3 linked regions of the Homo sapiens genome follow. The protein of the gene in region 3 interacts with the protein of the main gene of each other region in a pairwise test. Each region holds a gene or a part of one and is shown on either strand. Other genes may lie near its edges. The genes, in order: PLXNA2, RGS17 and DHX37.

Region 1 (3,651 bases), on a different chromosome or scaffold from region 3:
GTTTTTCAATATATTGTTAGATATTCCCAAACACCTGATGCACCTTTACTTTTGCTCAAATGGTGAGAGCTTGGTGTATGGCTTTCCTTGGAAACAGAAGGGCTCAATAGAGAGAGACTGGACTAAGAAGTAATACAGCCGAACTAAATTCAAATCCCCGCTTTATCACTTATAGCTGTGGAGATCTGAGCAACTTACTTAGTCTTTGTGAGCCTTTGTTTTTTAATCTGTAAAATGGGGAAGATAACTCTTGCTTTATGGGGTCATTGTGAGGAGCAAGTGAGATAACACTTAAATTGCCAAGCTTAGCCTTTAGGACTAGCTGCTATTCAATGAGTGATAGCCCCCTTCTTCCTCTCTTTTCTGGGATCAGAGCTCAAATTTTTGATCTGAGATTTCCATGTTATTCCAGAGTCATGTTAAAATCAAGCTCTGGGACCACAGCTTCTTTCATTTATCCTTATTCCCCTCTAAGGCCACCAAAATATTTCTGGGTCCCTGGGTCTTAGTTCTTTGGAGTATCAGGGTCTTTAAGGGGCCATTCCTCTTGCAGCCCTTGCACCAGAAGGGTGTGGTGCTGAAGGGGTGGAGGCAAGGGGCTCTCCACTCTAAGGTCCTGGCCCCACTCACTGTCACCTCTCTCCCAGTGCCTTTGCTATCCTTTTGTAACTAGCCCAGGCTTGTCCCTCTGCTCTGGAGCAGAGAAGAGTGTCATCTTCCTCTTTCCTCTGGCTCAGAAGCAGGCAGGAATCAGCAGTTTCCTCCTGACAAGGCCCCCTCTGGGTTATGGGAACTAGGCTGGACTCTGCAAGCATTTAACCCTTACGGAGGGTTACATTTCCTCTCCACCTCTCCACATTGGTTACGGCCAGTGGCCATAAAATTTTGGCGTTAAAAAAAAAAAAACCAAAGACTATCTAGTCTAGCTTCCTCATTTTACAACAGTAAGATAACTAAGAAAATAGCTGGCTCTTTACTACTGTGATTAATATTAATAATCATAGCGGCCCATTTATTGAATGCTTATTATGTTCCAGGTATTGTGCTAAGCACTTTACATAAATTTTCCATTTGATCCTCATAATAACCATGAAAAGAAGACAATATTATCTCTATTTTAAAGACGAAAAATTTACAGCTCAGACCAGGTACATAACTTGCCCAAAGTCACACAAGGAGTAAGTGGTAGGACTGATTTTTAATCCCCATCTGGTTTACTTCAAAGCCTTAACCACGACTCTTCTACCACACCAAGCAAATGATGACAGGAATAGAAGCGTAGCCTTGGAATGATGTTTTCTTGCTTCAAGTACTGGTGCTTGGTCCCAACGGCAGGCACCTTCAATTTAGAGTACTCAGAAGGTAGCCGTATGGGCCCCTTGGTCTCATATATTTTTTTCTAGGTTGCAGATCCAGAGCCCTCAGCACTGTGTACAAGAAACCTACTTTTGCACTTCTCACACTCCCTGTTAACTCCCTGTGTAATAATAAACCTAACATTTCCAGGCATGGTGCTAATCTCTCCATGTATTATCTCATCTGATCATCCCATGAGCTAGGCATTATTATTTCCATCTCACAGATAAGAATGTAGAGATGCTAAGGTGCTTCTGAAGAAGGCAGGAAGAAACACAGATGGAATTTGAAGCCTGGCTTTTGTCTCAGAACCTCAAACTCTGAGCCACTACATTATGTTGCCAGCTGTCTCTAGCTCTCTCTCTCTTCCTCTCTCTCTCTCTCTTCCCCCTACTAGATTATAAGATCTGTGAGACTAGTGATCATGTCTTTTTTTTTTCTGAGACAGGGTCTCACTCTGTCACCCAGGCTGGAGTATAGTAGCACAATCTTGGCTCACTGCAACCTCCACCTCCCATGCTCAGGCCTCCAGAGTAGCTGGTACTACAGGTGTGCATCACCACACCCAGCTAATTTTTGGAATTTTTGTAGAGACGGAGTTTTGTCATGTTGCCCAGGCTGGTCTCGAACTCCTGAGCTCAAGCAATCTGCCTACCTTAGCCTGCCAAAGTGCTGGGAGTACAGGTGTGAGCCACCGCACCCAGCCGATCATGTCTTTTTATGTTTGCAACCCCAGTGCCTAGTACAGTGCCAGGCATTCAGAAGATCTTCAATACTACTTGTAAATGAATAGAGGGATGGGTAGATGGATGATGGTGGATGAATAAAGAGAGGGATGAATGGATAGATGGAGGGCTAGGTAGACAAATGGATGATGGATAGATAAAGATATGGAGACATAGATTAAGGGAGAAAAAAGAGGGATGAGTGGATAAAGAGATGGATGAAGGGATGGAGGAAGGGATGGAGGAAAGAATGAAGGGAAGGATCAGGGACAGATGAATGGAGGTTTAGGTAAATAGGTGAATAGATGGATGGATGGATGATGGATGGATGGATGGATGGAGAGATGCATGGAGGGAGAGAGCTAAGGAGGATGGAGGGATAGATGGATAGGAGAATAAAAGGAGGGAAGGAAAGGGGATGGATGAAAGGAGAGATGGGTGGATAAATGAATGGATGATTGGATGGTTGGATGAATGATGGAAGAAGAGTGGATCATGAATACTTTGATGGCAGCACCATGAGCCGCTGACAGGGCAGTGCTTGCCACTGATTTTCTTGTCTCTGCTTTCCTCAGGTCTGGATTCTGAGCTTTTCATCCTCTCCTCTTTTGCCTTTGCCCACACTCCTGATTCTTCTCCAGTTTTCCATCAGTTGGTCAAGCCAGACTCCCTTCCCTCTCCTCTGACTTAGATTTCTGATCTCCACTTGACCCCCTCACTGGGAACCACAGTGGCCTACAGCTCTGTGTGTACATGACCTGGTCCCCATTACTTCTGATGGACCCCATCACCTGCTGCTCTTTCTCTCACATACTCTGATCTGGCTGCAGTTGCCTCCTTACTGTTCCTCAGACACTCCAGGCATGCCCTGAATTCTTTGCACATTCTCCTCACCCTTTCTCTCTCTGGAATGCTTTCTCTGGACACTTGTGTGGCTCCCTTTCTTCCCATCCTCAGTTTTTGCTTAGACACCACTTTCTCAATGAGTCAGTCCTCTCAGCTACTGCCTCTCCCCCTTTCCTGTTTATTTTTCTCTATAGCCATTATCACCATTTGGCAAACTAACATGTATTATGTGTTCATTTGTCTCACCCAACTAGCGTGTAATCTCCATGAGGGCAGTGAGCTTTGTAGGGTTGTATGGTTCACAGCTGAAGCCTGCAGCATTTACAATAGCACCTGATGTGATGTAGGCACTCAATACATATATTTGAAATGACAACAAATCAACACACATATCTCAAGTATCTGGTGTACGTAAGACCCTGCGTTATTGGTTACCACCTGATAACCTGAGTCTGAAAACCTCTTTCATTTCAGGTCCATGGTGGTGTGGGAGCAGATGTGCCCCAGGGCATGGACAGGAAGGTTGGAACCTGTGTCATGGAGCAGGAGCAGAGCGAGGTGTGTGCCTCCTTACCGCCTTGGTGCACTGGACGTCCTTCCCCAGCAGCCAGTTGAGCTCCAGGTTGCCCTCGCCCTGGTAGCAGGACTGCAGGCGCTCCTTGATCTGCAAGTTGATGGCCCGGATAGGGAAGGCACACAGGGCAGAGTCATCGGGCGGGTGGTG
Region 2 (3,651 bases), on a different chromosome or scaffold from region 3:
TATTTAAAGTATAAAAGAGCAATACCATTTTTAAATGATGGGCAAGCCCATGTCAAAGGGAAGAGAATAATTTTTAAATAAAATTATATAGTAAATCAGACTCCCAAAAGTGGATATTGTTAAATATTCTGACTTCATCCTTACATAATCTGAATTACTGAATATTTCTGAGATATATGATTAAATGCCTTAATATTATATATATATGTATATACACACACACACATATGATTACCTTACTCTTTAAACAAAATGTCATTTTGATTTTTGGTTAATTCTATTCATAGTCTGTTTTCCATTAATTTTCCCCGATTGAGAGCTAATAAGATACAATGTGTCAGAATCTAATACAGATTTTGCTAAATTTACATTGTTACCGATAATATCATTCCTTCAATTGCTAAAATCAAGCTACCGGATTTATATTTGACTTTGTTTTTGCCCTTTCACCCCAGTAAATCAATGTCCAAGGTCTTGAAAGGGACAGACCAGTAACTGAGCATTTGGAACAGGTGAGCATTGGGTGGGAGGGGTGTGTGTCTGTGTAGCATAGGTTTGGGAATTCTACAGCATCATAGAGGACAGAGGATAATGCCGAAGGTTTTAGTAGCCCAGAACAAGAATAAGAATAAGAATTGTCCAATGACAATTGCTCCCTAAAGCTGAGCAGTGCTTTAGGGCAAAACACCGAAAACTCTCGGTGTGGACTAGAAACAACAGGTGAGGTCATGGGAGATACTAAGAAGCAGGGTAGGGAGAATAACTCAGTGGCTCGGGAAAATTTGAGCTCCCAAATTAGCCAACTGATCCCTCTGTCTAGAAGCCGAGGAGCTTAAGAGCCTGGCAGAGAGCACAAGAAGTTCAGATAACATCTCTCATTTGTTCCTTCTTTCACTTACTTACTCAAAATAAGAAGCAATGGAAATGATGATTTTCTAGTGCCTGTTATGTGCTGGGCACCATTCTTTTACCATTAATATTATTATCCCCATTTTACAGATGAGCAAAGTGAGGTGCAGACCCGTCTGGGAGGCTGGCCCAAAACCGAACACTAAATAGGTGCTATAGTTGGAATTGGAAGCCTACCCTGTTCAACAACCCTGTATTTCTGAGTGCCTGCTATGAACCATGGCTGCTGATAGACACTGAGGTCATAGACCACTTACTATGTGAATGCAAAGAAGGGTCACTAAACATCGTTGGTATGGAAAGAAAGTGTTTAGGAAGAGGTGCCCAACAAGCAGTTATTCTCAATCTGGAAAGTCTGATAAGAGAAACCAAGACAATGTCTCCTTAATTCCTTCTTTCATTCTCAAGTGCAAGCGTGAGGACGGAGAGAATGGAGCAAAGGGAAATATTAATTTCTGACAAGCGGGCCCATCTACAATGGAAAGTGAGGCTAGATAGGAAAACTGACCTGAGAGAGCAGACTCACTGGAAAAAGGAGAACCCAATAGGAATTGAAAAGGATTCTGTAGTCAGGAAAAGGACATAGAAAACATAGGATTTCATAGTGAAATACATTGAGTTTGCCTCTACCCATTTCTAGGGACAGGGGCAGGTTTATTGGTGTCGAACCATGGAGGGAAAGGTAATGTAGCCCAGAAGGATTCTGGGGAGCAGAAACTAGAGTGGATGGTCCCTTGGACCTGCTGCACATTGACTAGACCCCTGCTGGAGGCAGCAGTCCCAGGGTTAGAGACAGCAAAGCCTTTAGCGTAGTGTAATTTTGGGGAGGAATTCAGAGACAGTGCATAATTTTGGAGGTATTTGCGTGTGAGTGCTGTGAATGTGTCTGAGGTTTGAGATAGCCTGGGAAACCTCAGTCCTCTATGTCACTATACAAATAGGCCAGATAAGTATTTTAGAGGAGATTCATGAATGAGTAAGAAAGTTCTTCTCTGGAATTTGATGTATTTCCAGTCATGATGGGAAAAGTGGATGGGGGGGGATACACTGCTGACAATATTCTGTAAAACTTCCTGTATATATAAAATGTACAATTTTTTGGTAAATTCTATTCAGCTCTTTTTAAAATAGGAAATTGATACTCATTCTGTCAACCTTTATTGAGCTTCTATGTGTGTGTGCAAACACATATTAAGGCACTATAACACAACTAGCAAAAGAGCTTTCATCCCCTGCTTAAATAATAAACTCCTTGAGTTTATTTTTATTACATTTCCACACAGTGTTCTACAGAAGGCAGTACACATGACGCAGGTATACTTCATTTCATTAAACATCTTTGAGAAATTTTTTTCTCCGTTGTGCCTTTGCCGTAGAGTGACAAATCTGGAGTCTACAGGCATGAATCACGAGTTTCTGAACATGAATTCTGGCTCTTCTATCTGTTTCTGTGATATTTACAAACATCCCAAATGCTACCATATTAGAGCGATCATTACGAAATATTAGGTTGAGTTTACATCTTTCTTTTCTACAGGTGGTAAAATATGGACACACATTTGGACTAAAACTACTTACAACAGACATTCAGTAAATGTTTAACTATTCACTGTGCAGCTCTTGATCTACTATTGGCCACAGTCTTGCCCTGTAGAAATTGAACTTTGGCAACAGACAAATTGTCCTTTTTATTAACTGTCCTTTACTACCGGTCTTAAAAAATGGGTTTCAAGGTTTCAGTTATCAAGAACTGCTGAAAATACCATTTTAAGTTAAAGAGAAATGGAGAAAATAGACAAGGGATTAATACTTAACAGTTTGTCTGTCTTGATATTGACTAATGTCTGTCCTACCTGGTCCTGCTCCAAGTAGTGCATTGTTGTTGTTGTTTTTATTAATTCACTGGAAATATTTGCTCTAGACCAACTTATATATGTTATATGTGTTTGAGGAAAGCCCTAAAAGGAAAATACCAGATCAACAGTTTTGAGGGTCCCATAGAGACACTTTTTTTTTTCTTTTTCTTTTTCTTTTTTTTTTTAAGACGGAGTGTTGCTCTGTTGCCCAGGCTGGAGTGCAATGGCATGATCTCAGCTCACTGCAAGCTCCGCCTCCCGGGTTCAAGTGATTCTCCTGCCTCAGCTTCCTGAGTAGCTGGGATTACAGGCACCCGCCACCATGCCCAGCTAATTTTTGTATTTTTAGTAGAGACAGGGTTTCACCATGTTGGTCAGGCTGGTCTTGAACTCCTGACCTTGTGATCCACCCACTTTGGCCTCCCAAAATGCTGGGATTACATGTCTTGTTTTTTCTTTTTAGCCCATATCTCTCCAAGAAGAGACACTCCCCCACTGACTTTTATGTATGTAACATTTAAAACTAACATTTCTACTTTTTAAGCAATAAAAGCCACAAAGAGAACTAAACACATACACAGTGCTCACTGTGAGGGTCTTGATCAAACCTTAAATACTTTATGGAAGAAAAGTGCCAATATCCTTGGCCAAATATACTAAAATAAGCATTTAAAATCCCATTAGAGATTTTCTAAATAGTGACTTTGAAAAGGGAGGAAAAATACTTGTGACATTTGAGAACTTAAGAAAATGTGCCCCCTCTCTATGGGGGTGGATTGTTTGTTTACAGGGGAGTGTGGACAGTGGAGTGAGAAAAAACATTACCTGCTGCCAATTATACAGTTTATCTACTGATCTGTCATCATGGATATGCGCAGGGTCTATT
Region 3 (3,651 bases):
CCCAGTGACTGTGCATTTCAACAAGCGGACACCGCTGGAAGACTACAGTGGCGAGTGCTTCCGGAAGGTCTGCAAGATCCACCGGATGCTGCCCGCAGGTGAGGCCCTGGCCAGGTCAGGGGAAAGAAGCCTCCCTTCCTAAACCCTCGCTGAAAGCACGAGTGTGGGAGGGCCCATCTCCGAGTGGCTCAGAAAAGTCCCTTGACCCTGCCAGGCCTCGGCTTCCTCACTTATTCCAGAGTGTTCATGACACCTGTCTGGCCTTATTCCACTCCAAATACTATGAGGCTTCAGCAGCTACCAGATGGTGGAGCTTGCCATCTGTCCCCATCTGATAAGCAGAAAAACCCACAGGGCCCAGGCCAGTGCTGGCAGGTGACCATAGACACTGTAGGGGAACGGGCACATCCCCCCAAGAGTCACGGATACCCTTCACAGTTCTGCCTTGTCCCCATCATACCTGCTCCGTTACCCACCTCATGTTACTGAAATGGATGTGACCTTTCTGTGTGAATAGATTGTGATCGCTTCCAGCCAGACTTTTTTTTTTTGAGACGGAGTTTTACTCTTGTTGCCCAGGCTGGAGTGCAGTGGCAGATCTTGGCTCACTGCAACCTCCACCTCCCGGGTTCAAGTGATTCTCCTGCCTCAGCCTCCCAAGTAGCTGGGATTACAGGTCCCACACTGGTCGCACACTGCCACGCCTGGCTAATTTTTTGTATTTTAGTAGAGATGGGGTTTCATCATGTTGGCCGGGCTGGTCTCGAACTCCTGACCTCAGGTGAGCTGCCTGCCTCAGCCTCCCAAAGTGCTGGAATTACAAGTGTGAGCCACTGCACCCAGCCTAGCCAGAGACTCTTGTGTGCCGAATTTGGGCCCAAGGCTGGCTTTCTTCATGTTAGGGAGGCAAGGAGCCATGGGGGTGCTTCCCAACAAGCTTGACCTCGTCCTTCAAGGAAGCCGAGGTTGCTGCTTCGTGATGCTCTGTCCTTGCTCTGCTTATGGCCTTTCGGGGCTCCCATCCATTCTCTGGGAGACTGGGGCTGGCAGGAGGTGAGGCTGGAGCTTGGGCAGTGAGCCTTCCTGCAGCCTCAGGTCTCAGGGCAGCCGCGGCGCTGTCACTGTCGTGAGTGTGGTGTGCAGGGTTCCGTGTGAGCACGCTTCTCAGGGCTTTTGGGTCTGTTCCTGGGAGTGATGCTGCTGGGCTGTGCAGTCGCCGTGTTTGTTGAACTCCCTGGCGGCAGCTGCTTCAGTCTGGGCGTGCTGCCCCCTGCTCATCTATGTCTGTGTACTCCTGTCCTCCCCCATTATCCCTGGAACCTTGCCTCTCAGAGCATGGCTTGGCAGGTGCTTTTGCTAAGCAAATGTTTGTGAGTGACTGATGGATAACAGAGGGGCCCATTCTTTCCACAGGTGGCATCCTGGTGTTCCTGACGGGGCAGGCTGAGGTGCATGCGCTGTGCCGCAGGCTCAGGAAGGCTTTCCCACCCTCCAGAGCCCGGCCACAAGGTAAAGAGGACGCCCCGACCAGCACTCTGCCCTGAGCAGCTGGGCTTGGCCTCGCGCTCCCTGGCTGGGGTGCAGCTCCTGCCTCTGAGCTTCTCTCTGGAAGCATCAGCACCTTTGCCATCCCCCACCTCACCCCCGAATAAATGGCCACCACTGAGTGGCCATGCCTTGAACAACAAAGGGCAGTGTGCTGGCGACCACGCCGGCCACAGACGCCTTTCTCCCCAACCTGCCCCTCTCCCAGAAAAGGACGACGATCAGAAAGACTCGGTGGAGGAAATGCGGAAGTTTAAGAAGTCAAGGGCCAGGGCCAAGAAGGCGCGGGCTGAGGTACGTGGGGGGCTGGCAGGGACTCCTGGAGAGTAAGGCTGCGTTGTCCAGGATGGCAGCTACCAGCCCCATGTGGCTGCTTAGGTTTAAGTGTAATTGGAATAAAATGAAGTTAAAAATCCAGTTCCTGGTCAGGCACAGTGGCTCATGCCTGTAATTCCAGCACTTTGGGAGGCCAAGGTGGGAGGATCGCTTGAGGCCTAGAGTTTGAGACCAGCTTGGGCAACATGGTGAGACCATGTCTCTACAAAAAATTTTTTAGATTAATCCAGTGCAGTGGCGCATGCCTGTGGTCCCAGCTGCTCAGAGGCTGAGGTGGGAGAACCATCTGAGCCCAGGAGGTCAAGGCTGCAATGAGCTGTGATGGTCCCACTGCACTCTAGCCTGGGCAACAGAGTGAGACTCTGTCTCAGAAATGGAAAAGAAGGCCAGGCGTGGTGGCTACGCCTGTAATCCCAGCACTTTGGGAGACTGAGGCAGGTGGATCACCTGAGGTCAGGAGTTCAAGTCCAACCTGACCAACATGGCGAAACCCTGTCTCTACTAAAAATACAAAATTAGCCAGGCATGGTGGTGTGCACCTGTACTCCCAGCTACTCTGGGATGGCTGGGCTGGCAGGGGCTTTCCTCTAGCCTCTGCGTGAAGGCACCGTGGGTCTTGTGCTCCGTGACGGTAGCGTAAGCACTCAGCCGTCTCTGACTTGCCTGTTGCACTACCGATGTGTCAGGCAGCGATCCAGGTTCCTCACGTGTGTTCACACAACCCTCCCACCAGCCTGGGAGACAAGGTCTATGATAGTCCCCAATGTTTAGGTGGGGAAATTCTGGCAGGAAGAGAGAATTATGTGGCCTGCCCCGGGTTGCATGGCCCATGGGTGTGGACCGGGGCTTCCATGCGAGGGCACCTGTCTTCCTGCACGTGCCACGTCCTCACACCCAGGATCCCTGCAGCCCAGGTGTCTATGTCTTGTTCGCCGTAGGTGCTGCCCCAGATCAACTTGGATCATTACTCGGTGTTACCGGCAGGCGAAGGCGATGAGGACAGGGAGGCAGAAGTGGATGAGGAAGAGGGGGCCCTGGACTCCGACCTCGATCTGGACCTGGGGGATGGCGGGCAAGATGGAGGTGTGGCCCGAGCACCGATTCCTGCTCATGTTCATTATCTCTGCCCTGAGGATGTGCCCAGAGCCCTTGTGGGCCCCCCGGGGGCCGGGGTTCTAGCAGCTTTGTCCCCGATGCTTCCTGAGTTCTTGAAACTGCCTGGCACGAGGAGGCCTCAAACATTTGCCATGTTGAATGTAATGGGGGCTGCCAACCCCTTGCTGAGGGACGCAGGCCTTCAGAGCCTGGGGGTGTTGCCCAGCTCCGTGTGCTCGCAGGGGCCCCCTGAATGCAGGCAGACCCAGTGCCCTGCTGTGCCCAGCCAGGGGCTGAGTGGGGCAGCAGAGAGTACCCCAGTACGGGCTCAGCCTGACCCCACCACAATGCTGCCAGGACACGAGGAGTGGAGTCAGGCTCCCGGGATCCATGCCAGGGGTTTGGAGGAGGAGATTGTGCAGCACAGGGGTTCAGATCCGGTTCAGGGCAGCAGAGACAAGAGAGCCCCTGGGAACCTCTCAGCAGTTCCCCCAGGCTTGGCCTGGCTGGTCCCAAGGGGAGCCTCTGCAGCAGGGCAAAGAAAGGAGCTCTGGTGGAGCAGCCTGGGGGTGCAGGGCCGCTGTGGCCAGCTCCTGCCTGTGGGCATCTGTCCCGGCCTGGGTGCCAGTGACCTCTGCTTTCCCTCCAGGTGAGCAGCCGGATGCCTCCCTCCCG

The links.
Region 1: the proteins of DHX37 (region 3) and PLXNA2 interact in a two-hybrid assay, tested with the Homo sapiens proteins (one large-scale study listed by IntAct).
Region 2: the proteins of DHX37 (region 3) and RGS17 interact in a two-hybrid assay, tested with the Homo sapiens proteins (one large-scale study listed by BioGRID).

What each region holds. Positions count from the first base shown.
Region 1 is NC_000001.11:208,213,234-208,216,884, forward strand, and holds part of PLXNA2 (plexin-A2 precursor), read right to left. Parts: coding exon 3,502-3,651; intron 3,486-3,501; exon of another isoform or gene 3,402-3,485; intron 1-3,401. UniProt on the Homo sapiens protein: Coreceptor for SEMA3A and SEMA6A. Necessary for signaling by SEMA6A and class 3 semaphorins and subsequent remodeling of the cytoskeleton. Plays a role in axon guidance, invasive growth and cell migration.
Region 2 is NC_000006.12:153,026,659-153,030,309, forward strand, and holds part of RGS17 (regulator of G-protein signaling 17), read right to left. Parts: intron 1-3,651. UniProt on the Homo sapiens protein: Regulates G protein-coupled receptor signaling cascades, including signaling via muscarinic acetylcholine receptor CHRM2 and dopamine receptor DRD2.
Region 3 is NC_000012.12:124,964,981-124,968,631, reverse strand, and holds part of DHX37 (probable ATP-dependent RNA helicase DHX37), read left to right. Parts: coding exon 1-98; intron 99-1,413; coding exon 1,414-1,509; intron 1,510-1,753; coding exon 1,754-1,839; intron 1,840-2,819; coding exon 2,820-2,964; intron 2,965-3,625; coding exon 3,626-3,651. UniProt on the Homo sapiens protein: ATP-binding RNA helicase that plays a role in maturation of the small ribosomal subunit in ribosome biogenesis. Required for the release of the U3 snoRNP from pre-ribosomal particles.